4 linked regions of the Homo sapiens genome follow. The protein of the gene in region 3 purifies or fractionates together with the protein of the main gene of each other region. This does not show direct contact. Each region holds a gene or a part of one and is shown on either strand. Other genes may lie near its edges.

Region 1 (3,500 bases), on a different chromosome or scaffold from region 3:
TACTTCCTGCTGTGATGGATGGAGATTTCACTTTCTTACACCATCTCCCTCCCTCCCCTGCCCCCGTCTCTCAAGATAGGAAGAGCTCTATTTTAACCTAAATCAGGTTTAAAGTGTCTACATTATTAATATATATAAATGATGATCACAGACAGCCAAGTAAAGTCCTTTGATTATATTTCCTTTCTTAGAGGGCTTTTCATTTCGCTGCAGAATTTTTGTTGCAATACTTGTCTTTTTATTTATCTATTTATTTATTTTGAGATGGAGTTTCACTCTTGTTCCCCAAGCTGGAGTGCAGTGGCGTGATCTCAGCTCACTGCAACCTCTGCCTCCCAGGTTCAAGCGATTCTCCTGCCTCAGCCTCCCGAGTAGCTGGGATTACAGGCGTGTGCTATGACACCTGGGTAATTTTTTAATTTTAGTGGAAATGGGGTTTCACCATGTTGGTCAGGCTGGTCTTGAACTCCTGATCTCAGGTGATCCACCTGCCTCGGCCTCCCAAAGTGCTGGGATTACAGGCACGAGCCACTGTGCCTGGCCCTGTCCTTTTCTTTTAAAGCTCTGTGTCATATGAGTTATTCTATTGCAGTCCCTTGTCTTCTCAGGAAGTGCAGTGTTAACCCTAGCTCCACCCCTAACTAGCCCAGTGACCTTGCACAAGTCCCTTCTCTTTTCTGAGCCTTGGTTTCCTCATCAGTAGAAAGAGAGCTAGGCTCCCTTCTTGTTCTCATTCTAAACCTCAGAACCTATCACCCCACCCACCTCACAGGCAGTAATATTATTACTCCTCAGTTAATATTATCTGAGAAGTCTTTACTCCAGGGTGGGGCAGCCCCAGGACCTGACAGATGGCAGAGAAACCAAAACAGGCAGGGGCAGGGGGAGGGAACAAACAAGCTAGCTGGGCCTGCCCTGTATGGTCTAGTTCACCCCTGCAGTTTAGGGGGCTGCTCTGTGGGGTGGTATGGTTGTATCTATTACTCTTTTCCTCCCCTGCTATCCCCGTTGGTTTTTGCTCTCCACAGCCTCTGCTTGTAGGGGCATCATTTACAGTCCCCAAACTCCCCAAGCTCCTACTCTACCCCCAGCTCTCTTTGTACCCCTTCTGCTTATGTTACACTCAAAGTTTCCCAAAAAGTAGTTATAAAAATACTAACTTTTGGTAGCAGCTTTATTGAAATATAGTTTGCATACTGTACAATTCACTCATTTAAAAAATATAGTTCAGGGCAGGCATGGTGGCTCATGTCTGTAACCCCAGCACTTTGGGAGGTCAAGGTGGGTGGATCACCTGAGGTCAGGAGTTTGAGACCAGCCTGGCCAACATGGCAAAACCCTGTCTCTACTGAAAATACAAAAATTAGCCAGGCATGGTGGCAGGTGCCTGTAATTCCAGCTACTCGGGAGGCTGAGGCAGGAGAATCGTTTGAACCCGGCAGAGGTTGCAGTGAGTGAGATCATGCCATTGCACTCCAGCCTGGGGAACAAGAGTGAAACTCTGTGTAAAAAAAAAAAAAAAAAAAACCGTTCAGTGGTTTTTAATATATTCACAGAGTTGTACAACCCATAATCGTAGTCAGTTTTAGAGCATTTTAGCACCCCAAAAAGAAATCTCATGGCCTTTAGCACCACCACCTATTTCCCCCAACCCCACCCCTTGGCAACCATAGATTTGCCTATTCTGGGCATGTTTAATAAATGGAACAATACAATACGGGGTCTTTAATGATTCGCTTCTTTCACTTAGCATAATATTGTCAAAGTTTATTCATGTTGTATCAATATCAGTACTTAATTACTTTTTATGGCTGAAAAATACTCCATGTGGCTATACAATTTTTTATTTATCAGTTGATGCATATGTTAGTTCTGCTTTTTAGCTATTACAAATAATGGTGCCATGAACATCCATGTACAAGTTTTTGTGTGGACCTGTATTTTCATTTCTCTTGGGTGTATGCCTAGGAGTAGAATTGCTGGGTCAAATGGTAACTGTGTGTTTAAAAATTTGAGGAAATACCAATCGATTTTCCAAAGTTGCGGCACCATCTTACATTCCCATTAGCAACGGTATTCTCAGTTTCTCCACATCCTTGCCAACACTTGTTATTGTCTGTCCTTTTCATTATAGCCATCCTAGTGGGTGTGAAGTGGTATCGATTTGCATTTCCCTAATAACTAAGGTTATTAATCTTTCTGTGTGCTTATTGGCTATGTGTATATCTTTGGAGAAAAATCTGTTCCTTGCCTATTTTTAAAATCAGGTTCTCTTTATTAATGAGTTTTAAGAATTCATTTTTTAAATTTATTTTTATTTAAAAAAATTTTTTTGTAGAAACAGGGTATCACTCTGTTGCCCAGGCTGGTCTTGAACTCCTGGCTTAAGCGATTCTCCCATCAACCTCCCAAAGTACTAGGATTACAGGCATGAGCCACTGTGCCCAGCCAAGAATTATTTACATATTTTATATACTTAGCAAATACATGATTTGCAAATATTTTCTTCTATTCTGTGGACTTACTTTCTTGATGGCGTCCTTTGAAGCACAATTTTTTTTATTTTGATGTTTAGTTTATTTTTTATTTTGTTGCTTGTGTTTTTGTTGTTATTACATAATTCAAGGTCACAAAGATGTACTCTTATGAGTTTTATAGTTTTAGCTCTTACATAGATCTTTGATCCATTTTGAGTTAATTTATTATATATTACATTATTTATACCTCACACCATAAAACAAATTTTGCATGTGGGTATCCAGTTGTCCTAGAATCATTTGTTGAAAAGAATATTCTTTCTACATCTCTTGTCAATTGACCATAAATGTGAGGATTTATTTCTGGATTCTCAGTTCAATTCCATTAATTTAATCATTGTTCATTGTCTTCATGGTAACACCACACAATTTTGATTACTGTAGTTTTGAGTATGTTTTGAAATCAGGAAGTGTGAGTCTTCCATTTTTGTTCAGTTCCTCCCACCCCCAAGATTGTCTTGATTATCCTGAGTGAGTCCCTTGAATTTCCATATGAATTTTAGGATCAGCTTGTCAATTTCTGCAAAGAAACCAGATGAGATTTTCATAGAGATTATGTTGAATCTGTAGGTTAGTTTGGGCAGTATTGCCGTGTTAACAATATTAAGCCTTCCAACCTATGGACATGGGATATCTTTTTATTTATTTAGGTCTTTAATATTTTCAACAAGGTTTTATTGCTTTCAGAGTGTATGTTTTGTACTTATTTTGTTAAGTTTATTTCTAAGTATTGTATTATTTTTGATGCTACTATAAATAGAACTGTTTTCTCCATTTTATTTTCATATTGTGCATTGCTGGTATATAGAGATACTACTGATTTTTATATGCTGATATTGTATCCTACAAACTTGCTGAACTTGTTTATGACTTTCAATAGTTTTTAGTGGATTTTTCTTGGATTTTCTATAACAAGACTATGTTATCTGCAAATAGGAATAGTTTTACTTTTTCCTTTCTAAT
Region 2 (3,500 bases), on a different chromosome or scaffold from region 3:
ATTTACAGATGATTTTGTTGTTCAATTAACGAAGAACTGATACTGGTATAATTTGATCACCTAGGCTTGTGGTTCCTACACGGGGATGTAGTAGCCTTCTCGAAACAGACATTTGAGCTCCTCTGGCTTTCATCCGAGCTTCTGGTGTTTAGTAGGAAATAGTCTCCGAAGTGCAGGTCATGTAGTCCTAGTGTTTTATAGTTATAAAGCTGAATTGTTCTTACAGGAGTTACAGAGGTCTATAAAGAAAATGTCCATAATCTCTCTGTCTTCAAGTTCTAGTTCCTTAGCCCTAAAGTCAGCAAAGTTAACATTTGGTGTCCATTATTCCCACACTTTTCTCTTTGTTCATATCATCGTGTATAAACATATACACAGGCTGGGCATGGTGGCTTTCACCTGTAATCCCAGCACTTTGGGAGGCTGACGCTGAGGTGAGAGGATTGCTTGAGGCTAGGAGTTCAGGACCATCCTGGGCATTAAGGGAAGACCCCATTTCTACAAAAAATAAAATATTACAGCTGGGTGCAGTGGTGTGTACCTGTAGTCCGAGCTACTCGGTAGGCTGAGGCAGGAAGATTGAGCCCAGGAATTTGAGGCTGCAGTGAGCTATGATTGTGCCACTGCACTCCAGCCTCTATGATAGAGGGAAAAAAAAATCCATATACAGACATTGATTATTTTATTTTTCTTTATGGAAGTGGGATTATATTATGCGTGTAATTTTTATAACTTTTCTTAACAGTATGTGAGGGTCATCCTTCCAGATCATTACATATAGCTCTAACATTGTTAATAGCTGCGTGATGCTCTATAATACTGGTATACCCTATATGCCACTTATTAATAAACTTAAGTTACTTTCATTTTTTCCATCATAAGTAAGACTGCTTAATCATTGGAATAATAATAGATTTTGTTAAAAAGGCACCCCTTTGGTATAAATCTCAAATGGCCACTATTTTAGAAACATTAACATGGAAAATAATATTTCTTCTAAAGTTAAGATTAACAGAACTGACTTTAATTTGTTTTATTTTAGTTATTAGATCTTTTGATGTCAACAAACCTGGCTGTGAAGTTGATGACCTTAAGGGAGGTGTAGCTGGTGGTAGTATCCTAAAAGGAGTATTAAAGGTAAAATGGGTTTTGGTTGTTGTGATTTTGGGTTTTTTTTTTTTGTTGTTTGTTTGTTTGTTTTATCCTTGTCTTAATCAGGAAAAAAAGTATGGACAATCCAAATTGAAAAATAAAATTTTTTCCATGGTTTCTGGTATTTGATGTAGAGTTCTCTTTTTTAATATTCTTTTTTTCTCTCTTCAAACTTCACTCCTCCCACCCTTCTAGACCTCTGAATCCACAATCTACCTTCATGAGATCCACCTTTTTAGCTTCCACATATACAGATGAGTGAGAATGTGTGATATTTGTCTTTTTGTGCCTGGCTTATTTTACTTAACAAAATGGCCTCCAATTCTAGATGTGCTGCTGCAAATGGCAGAATTTTTTTTTATGGCTGCATAATACTTCATTGCATATATATATATGCTGCCATTGCTTTTCTTTTCTTTTTTTTTTTTTTCTTGAGGCGGAGTCTTGCTGTTTCGCCCAAGCTGGAGCGATCTCAGCTCACTGCAACCTTCACCTCCTGGGTTCAAGCGATTCTCCCTGCCCCAGCCTCCCAAGTAGCTGGGATTACAAGCACCCCCCACCATGCCCAGCTAATTTTTGTATTTGTAGTAAAGACAGGGTTTCACCATGTTGGCCAGGCTGGTCTTGAACTCCTTACCTCAAGTGATCCACCCGCCTCGGCCTCCCAAAGTGTTGGGATTATAGGCGTGAGCCACTTTGCCCGGCCTATATACTGCATTTTCTTTATCCATTCATCTGTTCATGGGCACTTAGGTTGATTCCATGTTTGGCTATTGTGAACTGTGCTACAATAAACATGGGAGTGCAGATACCTCTTTGATAATATTGCTTCCCTTTCTGGTGAATGTATACCCACTAGTGAAACTGATGGATCATATGGTAGCTGTATTTTCAGGTTTTCAAGGAACCTCCATACTGTTCTCCATGGTAGCTATACTAATTTACATGCTCTGATAATAGTTTTTTTTTTGTTTTGTTTTTTGAGCACAGTGGCATGATCTTGACTCACTGCAACCTCCACCTCCTGGGTTCAGGTGATGATTCTCCTGCCACAGCCTCCCGACTTGCTGGGGCTACAGGCACTCGCAACCTCGCCCAGCTAATTTTTTTGGTAGAGATGGGGTTTTGCCATATTGGCCAGGCTGGTCTCTTAACTCCTGACCTCAGGTGATCTGCCTGCCTCAGCCTCCCAAAGTGCTGGGATTACAGGCATAAGCCACCACGCCCAGCTATATTTCTTTGTTTTCTGTTATGTCTTTTGAATGTGTCTGACTTGAAAATTTATAGACTTGTAAGTATGGAGCACATTTGATGTGGTAATAGACTTGTGTGGTGGGTAGTTAACAACAGTTGGATGGTTCTGGTTTTGACAGTCTCGTTCACATCTTTTTTTTTTTTTTTTTTTAAGAATAATGATCTTTGAAATACAGGAATGATTGCCTTTTCAGTTTTATGGTCTTCCGGTTGGACCTTTATTATTATTTTATTTTATTTTATTTTTGAGACAGAGTCTCTCTTTGTCACCCAGGCTGGAGTGCAGTGGTGCGATCTCGGTTCACTGCAACCTCTGCCTCCCAGGTTCTAGCAATTCTGCCGCAGCCTCCTGAGTAGCAGGGATTACAGGTGCGTGCCACCACACCTGGCTAATTTTTGTGTTTTTAGTAGAGACGGGGTTTCACTATGTTGGCTGGGCTGGTCTCGAACTCCTGACCTCAGGTGATCCACCCGCCTCGGCCTCCCAAAATGCTAGGATTACACATGTGAGCCACCGCACCCAGTCCCTGTTGGAACTTTTGATAGGTAAATGATAATTTTGCGTAACACAGTAATTCTAATTACTAATTATATGTTTACAGGTGGGCCAGGAGATAGAAGTAAGACCTGGTATTGTTTCCAAAGATAGTGAAGGAAAACTCATGTGTAAACCAATCTTTTCCAAAATTGTATCACTTTTTGCGGAGCATAATGATCTGCAATATGCTGCTCCAGGCGGTCTTATTGGTAAGGATTTTTTTCTCATCTCTTTTAATTTGTGGCTATTTGTGGTACTTTTCATGGGGGATGGATTACCAAAAGGGACATATTACAGATTTTTAATTGGGTATTTTAATAATAGAGTAGGGTGGGGAACAATCATGTGGTTAAGCTCTTGTTTTAGGTTATAAGATGGTTTCATGGGTTTGTAAAAATTATTTTTAAACACAAAGGATACATTTTGATCAAATATAGAGTAACTCCTTTTTAGCAATATAAAAAAATAAATTTGATGACTTATCATGTAAGATATTTACCTACACTTATGTTTTTGTTAACATGATTTTTGTGCTAGATAATGGTTGCCTTTTTTT
Region 3 (3,500 bases):
CTCCGTAAATCCCCCTCTCCAGTGGTCCCACCATAATTAGTTTGAAGCACATCCTTACAGACATTTCTCAGATCAATTATATTTGTATATATATCCTATTACACACTTTGTTTTGTTTAACAGAAATGGATCCATCCCAAATCTCTTGTTTCTATAATTTGCTTTTACCATTATATATATATATATATTAATATACCTTAATATACAGAATTTGAAACATACTATAGTGATTTCTATATGCAAAGCATAGTGCTAAGAGCTTAAAATGTATCTCAATTAATCTGTACAATAATTCTATGATGGCTGGGGGCAGTGGCTCATGCCTATAATCCCAGCACTTTGGGAGGTTGAGGTGGGAGGATTGCTTGAACCCAGGATTTCAAGACCAGCCTGGACAACATAGCAAGACCCCATCTCTGCAAAAAAATAAAATAAAAAATTAGGTAGGCATGGTGATGTGCACTTGTAGTCCCAGCTACTCAGGAGACTGAGGTGGGAGGATCACCTGAGCCCAGGAGGTTGAGGCTGCAATACTGCATTTAGCTTGGGGAATAGAATGAGATCTTGTCTCAAAAAAAAAAAATATGTATCTCAATTACTCTGCACAACAGTCTGCGAGGAAGGAACTATTATCATGCCCATTAAACAGTTAAGGAGACTGAGACAATGTCCGTGTGCACTCAGTGGGAGGGTCAAGGTTGGAACCCAGGCAGTTTTAGGCTCTAGGGCCCACTGTTCTCCCCTGCCTCCCCACAGAGTCTTTCACTGCAGCAGAGTATTTCATACTATGGGTGATACATCACTGAGGTAAACATTTCCCTACTGGGCATTTGGGTATGCCTAGTTTTTCAATATAGCCAATGAGCTTCCTCACACATGACTCTCTGAGCACATATGAGAAAAATGTTGTCAGAGAAGATTTGAGAAGAGAAAGTGCTGAATCAGAGGGTATCCTGGTCTGGGTTCCTCCAGAAGCTGACTCAGAGACAAAGATTGAGATGGACATAGTATGTTTGGGAGACCTGAGGAACACAAACATAGAGAAAGGGAAGTGGGCCCGGGTGTGGTGGCTCACGCCTGTAACTGTAGCATTTTGGGAGGCCAAGGCTGCAGGATCACTTGACCTCAGGAGTTCGAGACCAGCCTGGGCAACATGACAAAACTCCATCTCTACAAAAAATACAAAAAAAACTAGCCGGGCTTGGTGGCATACGCCTGTAGTCCCAACTACTCAGGAGGAGGAGGTGGGAGGAGCACCTGAGCCTGGAAGTTCAAGGTTGCAGAGAGCTATGATTGTACCACTGCAGTCCAGCCTGGGTGACAGAGTGAGACCCTGTCTCAAAAGAAAAAAATAAAAGAAATAGGAGAAAAGAAGTGGTACAGAGAAGGGATAGCTGCCAACGAAGGCTGGGTTGAGCCAGTTACCACCACCATGAGCTTAATCAGGAGGCAAGGGAGCTGGGATATTTATACACCAACTCTCATCAGCCATTGGGTGAGGACTGCTAGATGGAGGTTTTAGTTCCCCAGCACCTCTAGCCTACTATGCTTATAAGTGGTTCTAGAACAATAAACTGGCAACTGGAAGTCAACAAAAGCCCACCAAAATAGTACAGTCCAAAAGAAATGCTCAAGGCCCTGACAAGGGATCTTCAACATTGCTAGATTTTGCCAAAATGCCCTGGCCAAGCTCTACCTACATACACTCCCACCAGGAATGGGAAATAAGCAATTCTCATAAGCCTGCACCCACATTGGCTATGAGCAGCCTTATTCAGATCAATGTGATAGGAATGTCATTGTTAAACTGCAAGTCTGGCCAGGTGTGGTGGCTCATGCCTGTAATCCCAGCACGTTGGGAGGCCGAGGTAGGCGGATCACTTGAGGTCAGGAGTTCATGACCAGCCTGGTCAACATGGGGAAACCCCGTCTCTACTAAAAATACAAAAATGAGCCAGGCGTGGTGACATCCACCTGTAGTCCCAGCTACTCAGGAGGCTGAAGCAGGAGAATCGCTTGAACCCAGGAGGCAGAGGTTGCAGTGAGCCAAGATCATACCACTGCACTCCAGCCTGGGTGACAAAGTGAGACTCCATCTCAAAAAAAAACAACAACAAAAAAAGCTAAGACAGTAAATTTTAGGTTATGTGTATTTCATTATAATTTTTTAAAAGCTTTGTCAAACCACAGTTCCACCTCCTCCACAAGCCCTCTCTGAACTCCCACTAACACCAGACTGGAAGTGAGATTTCTTATCTCTGAGCCTCTGGCCTTCTCACCAATTTTTGCTAAGAGCTCTACCCACCCATACAGTATCCCCTGAGCAGAGACTGAAACCCCCAGCCCTGCCCCAACCCCTCAATCTTTCTACAGTGTCCTGTCCTCAGAAAGCACATGCCAGCTGGGAAGATGAAATCTGTGGCCAGGTAAACTGGCTCACACCTGTAATCCCAACACTTTGGGAGGCTGAGGCAGGAGGATCGCTTAAGCCCAGGAGTTTGAGACCAACTTGGGTAACATAGTAAGACCCCATTGCTACAAAAAAATTTAAAAATGAGCCAGGCATGGTGGCACACGCCTGTGGTTCCAGCTACTTCAGAGGCTGAGGTGAGAGGATTGCTTGAGTCTGGGAGGTTGAGGCTGCAGTGAGCTATGATGGCACCACTGCTCTCCAGCCTGGGTGACAGAGCAAGCCTGTCTCAAAAAAAAACAAACAAACAAAAAAAAAAACTTTTCTTTTTTTGAGATCAGGACAACCTGAGCATAATACCCACTCAGCCACTCAGCTCTACCTTTTTTTTTTTTTTTTTTTTTGGAGACAGAGTCTCCCTCTGTCACCCAGGCTGGAGTACAATAGCACAATCTCGGCTCACTGAAACCTCCACCTCTCGGGTTCAACTGATTCTCCTGCCTCAGCCTCCCGAGTAGCTGGGACTACAGGTGCCCACCGACACGCCCGGCTAAGTTTTGTATTTTTAGTAGAAATGGGGTTTCACCACGTTGGCCAGGCTGGTCTCAAACTTCTGACCTCAAGTGATCTACCTGCCTTGGCCTCCCAGAGTGCTAGGATTACAGGTGTGAGCCACTGCGCCCAGCCCCTTTTTTTTCCTTTGAGACAGAGTCTCACTCTGTCGCCTAGGCTGGAGTGCAGTAGAGCAATCTTGGCTCACTGCAACCTCCACCTCCTGGGTTCAAGTGATTCTCCTGCCTCAGCCACCTGAGTAGCTGGAACTACATGCACACAACACCACACCTGGCTAATTTTTGTATTTTTGGTAAAGATGAGGTTTCACTGTGTTGGCCAGGCTGGTCTTGAACTCCTGACCTCAAGTGATCCACCTACTTCAGCCTCCCAAAGTACTGGGATTACAGGTGTGAGCCTCCATGCCCAACCAGCTCTACCATCTAAGAGCTGTATCTGTAGCAATTCCCTTCCTCTCTTTGAGCTTCAGTCTCATTTGTAAAATGGGACTAATTATACCAACCCCATTGATAAAAGA
Region 4 (3,500 bases), on a different chromosome or scaffold from region 3:
TATTTAGTGAGACAGGGTTTCACCATGTTAGCCAGGCTGATCTCGAACTCCCGACCTCAGGTGATCCACCCACCTTGGCCTCCCAAAGTGCTGGGATTACAGGCGTGAGCCACCGCACCCGGCCCACATTTAAGTCTTTAATCCATCTTGAATTAATTTTTGTATAGGGTGTAAGGAAGGAATCCAGTTTCAGCTTTCTACATATGTCTAGCCAGTTTTCCCAGCACCATTTATTAAATAGGGAATCCTTTCCCCATTTCTTGTTTTTGTCAGGTTTGTCAAAGATCAGATGGTTGTAGATGTGTCATACTATTTCCAAGGACTCCGTTCTGTTCCATTGGTCTATATCTCTGTTTTGATACCAGTACCATGCTGTTTTGGTTACTGTAGCCTTGTAGTATAGTTTGAAGTCAGATAGCGTGATGCCTCCAGCTTTGTTCTTTTGGCTTAGGATTGTCTTGGCAAGGCAGGCTCTTTTTTGGTTCCATGTGAACTTTCAAGTAGTTTTTTCCAATTCTGTGAAGAAATTGGTAAGCTTGTGAAGTCATTGGTAGCTTGATGGGGATGGCATTGAGTCTATAAATTACCTTGGGCAGTATGGCCATTTTCACAATATTGATTCTTCCTATCCATGAGCATGGAATGTTCTTCCATTTCTTTGTGTCCTCTTTCATTTCGTTGAGCAGTGGTTTGTAGTTCTCCTTGAAGAGGTCCTTCACATCCCTTGTAAGCTGGATTCCTAGGTATTTTATTCTCTTTGAAGGAATTGTGAAGGGGAGTTCACTCATGATTTGGCTCTCCGTTTATCTGTTATTGGTGTATAAGAATGCTTGTGATTTTTGCACATGATTTTGTATCCTGAGACTTTGCTGAAGTTGCTTATCAGCTTAAGGAGATTTTGGGCTGAGACAATGGAGTTTTCTAAATGTACAATCATGTCATCTGCAAACAGGGACAATTTGACTTCCTTTTTTCCTAATTGAATACCCTTTATTTCTTTCTCCTGCCTGATTGCCCTGGCCGGAACTTCCAACACTATGTTGAATTGGAGTGGTGAGAAAGGGCATCCCTGTCTTGTGCCAGTTTTCAAAGGGAATGCTTCCAGTTTTTGCCCATTCAGTATGATATTGGCTGTGGGTTTGTCATAAATGGCTCTTATTATTTTGAGAAACATCCTATTAATACCTAGTTTATTGAGAGTTTTTAGCATGAAGGGCTGTTGAATTTTGTCAAAGGCCTTTTCTGCATCTATTGAGATAATCATGTGGTTTTTGTCTTTGGTTCTGTTTATATGATGGATTACGTTTATTGATTTGCGTATGTTGAACCAGCCTTGCATCACAGGGATGAAGCCAACTTGATCATGGTGGATAAGTTTTTGATGTGCTGCTGGATTCAGTTTGCCAGTATTTTATTGAGGATTTTTGGATCGATGTTCATCAGGGATATTGTCTAAAATTCTCTTTTTTTTGTTGTGGTCTCTGCCAGGCTTTGGTATCAGGATGATGTTGGCCTCATAAAATGAGTTAGGGAGGATTCCCTCTTTTCCTATTGATTAGAATAGTTTCAGAAGGAATGGTACCAGCTCTTTTTGTACCTCTGGTAGAACTCGGCTGTGAATCCGTCTGGTCCTGGACTTTTTTTTGGTTGGTAGGCTATTAATTATTGCCTCAGTTTCAGAACCTGTTATTGGTCTATTCAGGGATTCAACTTCTTCCTGGTTTAGTCTTGGGAGGGTGTATGTGTCCAGGAATTTATCCATTTCTTCTAGATTTTCTAGTTTGTTTGTGTAGAGGTGTTTATAGTATTCTCTGATGGTAGTTTGTATTTCTGTGGGATCGGTGTTGATATCTCCTTTTTCGTTTTTTATTGCGTCTGTTTGATTCTTCTCTCTTCTTTATTAGTCTTGCTAGCGGTCTTATCAATTTTGTTGATCTTTTCAAAAAACCAGCTCCTGGATTCATTGATTTTTTTTGAAGGGTTTTTTTGTGTGTCTGTCTCCTTCACTTCTCCTCTGATCTTAATTATTTCTTGCCTTCTGCTAGCTTTTGAATGTGTTTGCTCTTGCTTCTCTAGTTCTTTTAATTGTGATGTTAGGGTGTCAGTTTTAGATCTTTCCTGCTTTCTTTTGTGGACATTTAGTGCTATAAATTTCCCTTTACACGCTGCTTTAAATGCGTCCCAGAGATTCTGGTATGTTGTGTCTTTGTGCTCATTGGTTTCCAAGAACACTTTATTTCTGCCTTCATTTCGTTATTTATCCAGTAGTCATTCAGGAGCAGGTTGTTCAGTTTCCATGTAGTTGAGCGGTTTTGAGTGAGTTTCTTAATCCTGAGTTCTAGTTTGACTGCACTGTCGTCTGAGAGACAGTTTGTTATAATTTCTGTTCTTTTACATTTGCTGAGGAGTGCTTTACTTCCAACTATGTGGTCAATTTTGGAATAAGTGTGATGTGGTGCTGAGAAGAATGTATATTCTGTTGATTTGGGGTGGAGAGTTCTGTAGATGTCTATTAGGTCCGCTTGGTGCAGAGCTGAGTTCAATTCCTGGATATCCTTGTTAACTTTGTCTCGTTGATCTGTCTAATGTTGACAGTGGGGTGTTAAAGTTTCCCATTATTATTGTGTGGGAGTCTAAGTCTCTTTGTAGGTCTCTGAGGACTTGCTTTATGAATCTGGGTGCTCCTGTATTGTGTGCATATTTTTTTTTTTTTTTTTTGAGAAGGAGTCTCACTCTGTCGCCCAGGCTGGAGTGCAGTGGCGGGATCAGAGCTCACTGCATCCTCAAACTCCTGGGCTCAAGCAGTCCTCCTAACTCAGCCTCCTAAAGAGCTGGGATCACAGGTGCACACCTCCATGCCTAGCCAATTTGTAAATGTTTTGTAGAGATGAGATCCCATTGTGTTGCCCAGGCTGATGTCAAACTCCTGGCCTCAAGTGATTCTCCCACCCCAGCCTCCAAAAGTGATGGGATTACAGGCGTGAGCCACCACACCCAGCCAGGAAATATTTTAGAGTCAGAATAGATGAGACTGTTTTCTGTTGTTCTATAATAGCCTCAGATGAGTAATTAGGCAAGTGATGTAAAACCTTTGACTCTTTTCTTTGGGATCAGGTAGAGCCTGCTGATAAGGAGTTCTGATATGAAGGCAAGATTTTCCTTTATTCTGTAAGAAAGAACCTTATCCTTGGAAGTAAGGGGTCAGCAAAAGTTACAGGAAAACAGGAAATTTCCCTTCTTATTCTGCACTACTTTTTTCTGACTTTTCATTTATGGACCTGCTTTAGGAACAGCGACATCTCACTCATGAAAATGTACAGCGCAAGCAAGCCAGGACAGGAGAAGAGCGAGAAGAAGAGGAAGAAGAGCAGATCAGTGAGAGTGAGAGTGAAGATGAAGAGAACGAGATCATTTACAACCCCAAAAACCTGCCACTTGGCTGGGATGGCAAAGTAAGTCTCAGCACTACCACTTTCTCCCCATTCCCCATTTTGGAAACA

What was found. Proteins that work in one complex are often made in the same cells at the same time.
Region 1: the proteins of SLC8B1 (region 3) and CYFIP2 purify together in Homo sapiens (affinity purification with mass spectrometry; one large-scale study listed by BioGRID and IntAct). This does not show direct contact.
Region 2: the proteins of SLC8B1 (region 3) and EIF2S3 purify together in Homo sapiens (affinity purification with mass spectrometry; one large-scale study listed by BioGRID and IntAct). This does not show direct contact.
Region 4: the proteins of SLC8B1 (region 3) and SF3A3 purify together in Homo sapiens (affinity purification with mass spectrometry; one large-scale study listed by BioGRID and IntAct). This does not show direct contact.

Annotation. Positions count from the first base shown.
Region 1 is NC_000005.10:157,272,623-157,276,122, forward strand, and holds part of CYFIP2 (cytoplasmic FMR1-interacting protein 2), read left to right. Parts: intron 1-3,500. UniProt on the Homo sapiens protein: Involved in T-cell adhesion and p53/TP53-dependent induction of apoptosis. Does not bind RNA. As component of the WAVE1 complex, required for BDNF-NTRK2 endocytic trafficking and signaling from early endosomes.
Region 2 is NC_000023.11:24,064,956-24,068,455, forward strand, and holds part of EIF2S3 (eukaryotic translation initiation factor 2 subunit 3), read left to right. Parts: intron 1-1,042; coding exon 1,043-1,137; intron 1,138-3,008; coding exon 3,009-3,153; intron 3,154-3,500. UniProt on the Homo sapiens protein: Member of the eIF2 complex that functions in the early steps of protein synthesis by forming a ternary complex with GTP and initiator tRNA.
Region 3 is NC_000012.12:113,321,610-113,325,109, forward strand, and holds part of SLC8B1 (mitochondrial sodium/calcium exchanger protein isoform 1 precursor), read right to left. Parts: intron 1-3,500. UniProt on the Homo sapiens protein: Mitochondrial sodium/calcium antiporter that mediates sodium-dependent calcium efflux from mitochondrion, by mediating the exchange of 3 sodium ions per 1 calcium ion.
Region 4 is NC_000001.11:37,969,523-37,973,022, reverse strand, and holds part of SF3A3 (splicing factor 3A subunit 3), read left to right. Parts: intron 1-3,287; coding exon 3,288-3,452; intron 3,453-3,500. UniProt on the Homo sapiens protein: Component of the 17S U2 SnRNP complex of the spliceosome, a large ribonucleoprotein complex that removes introns from transcribed pre-mRNAs.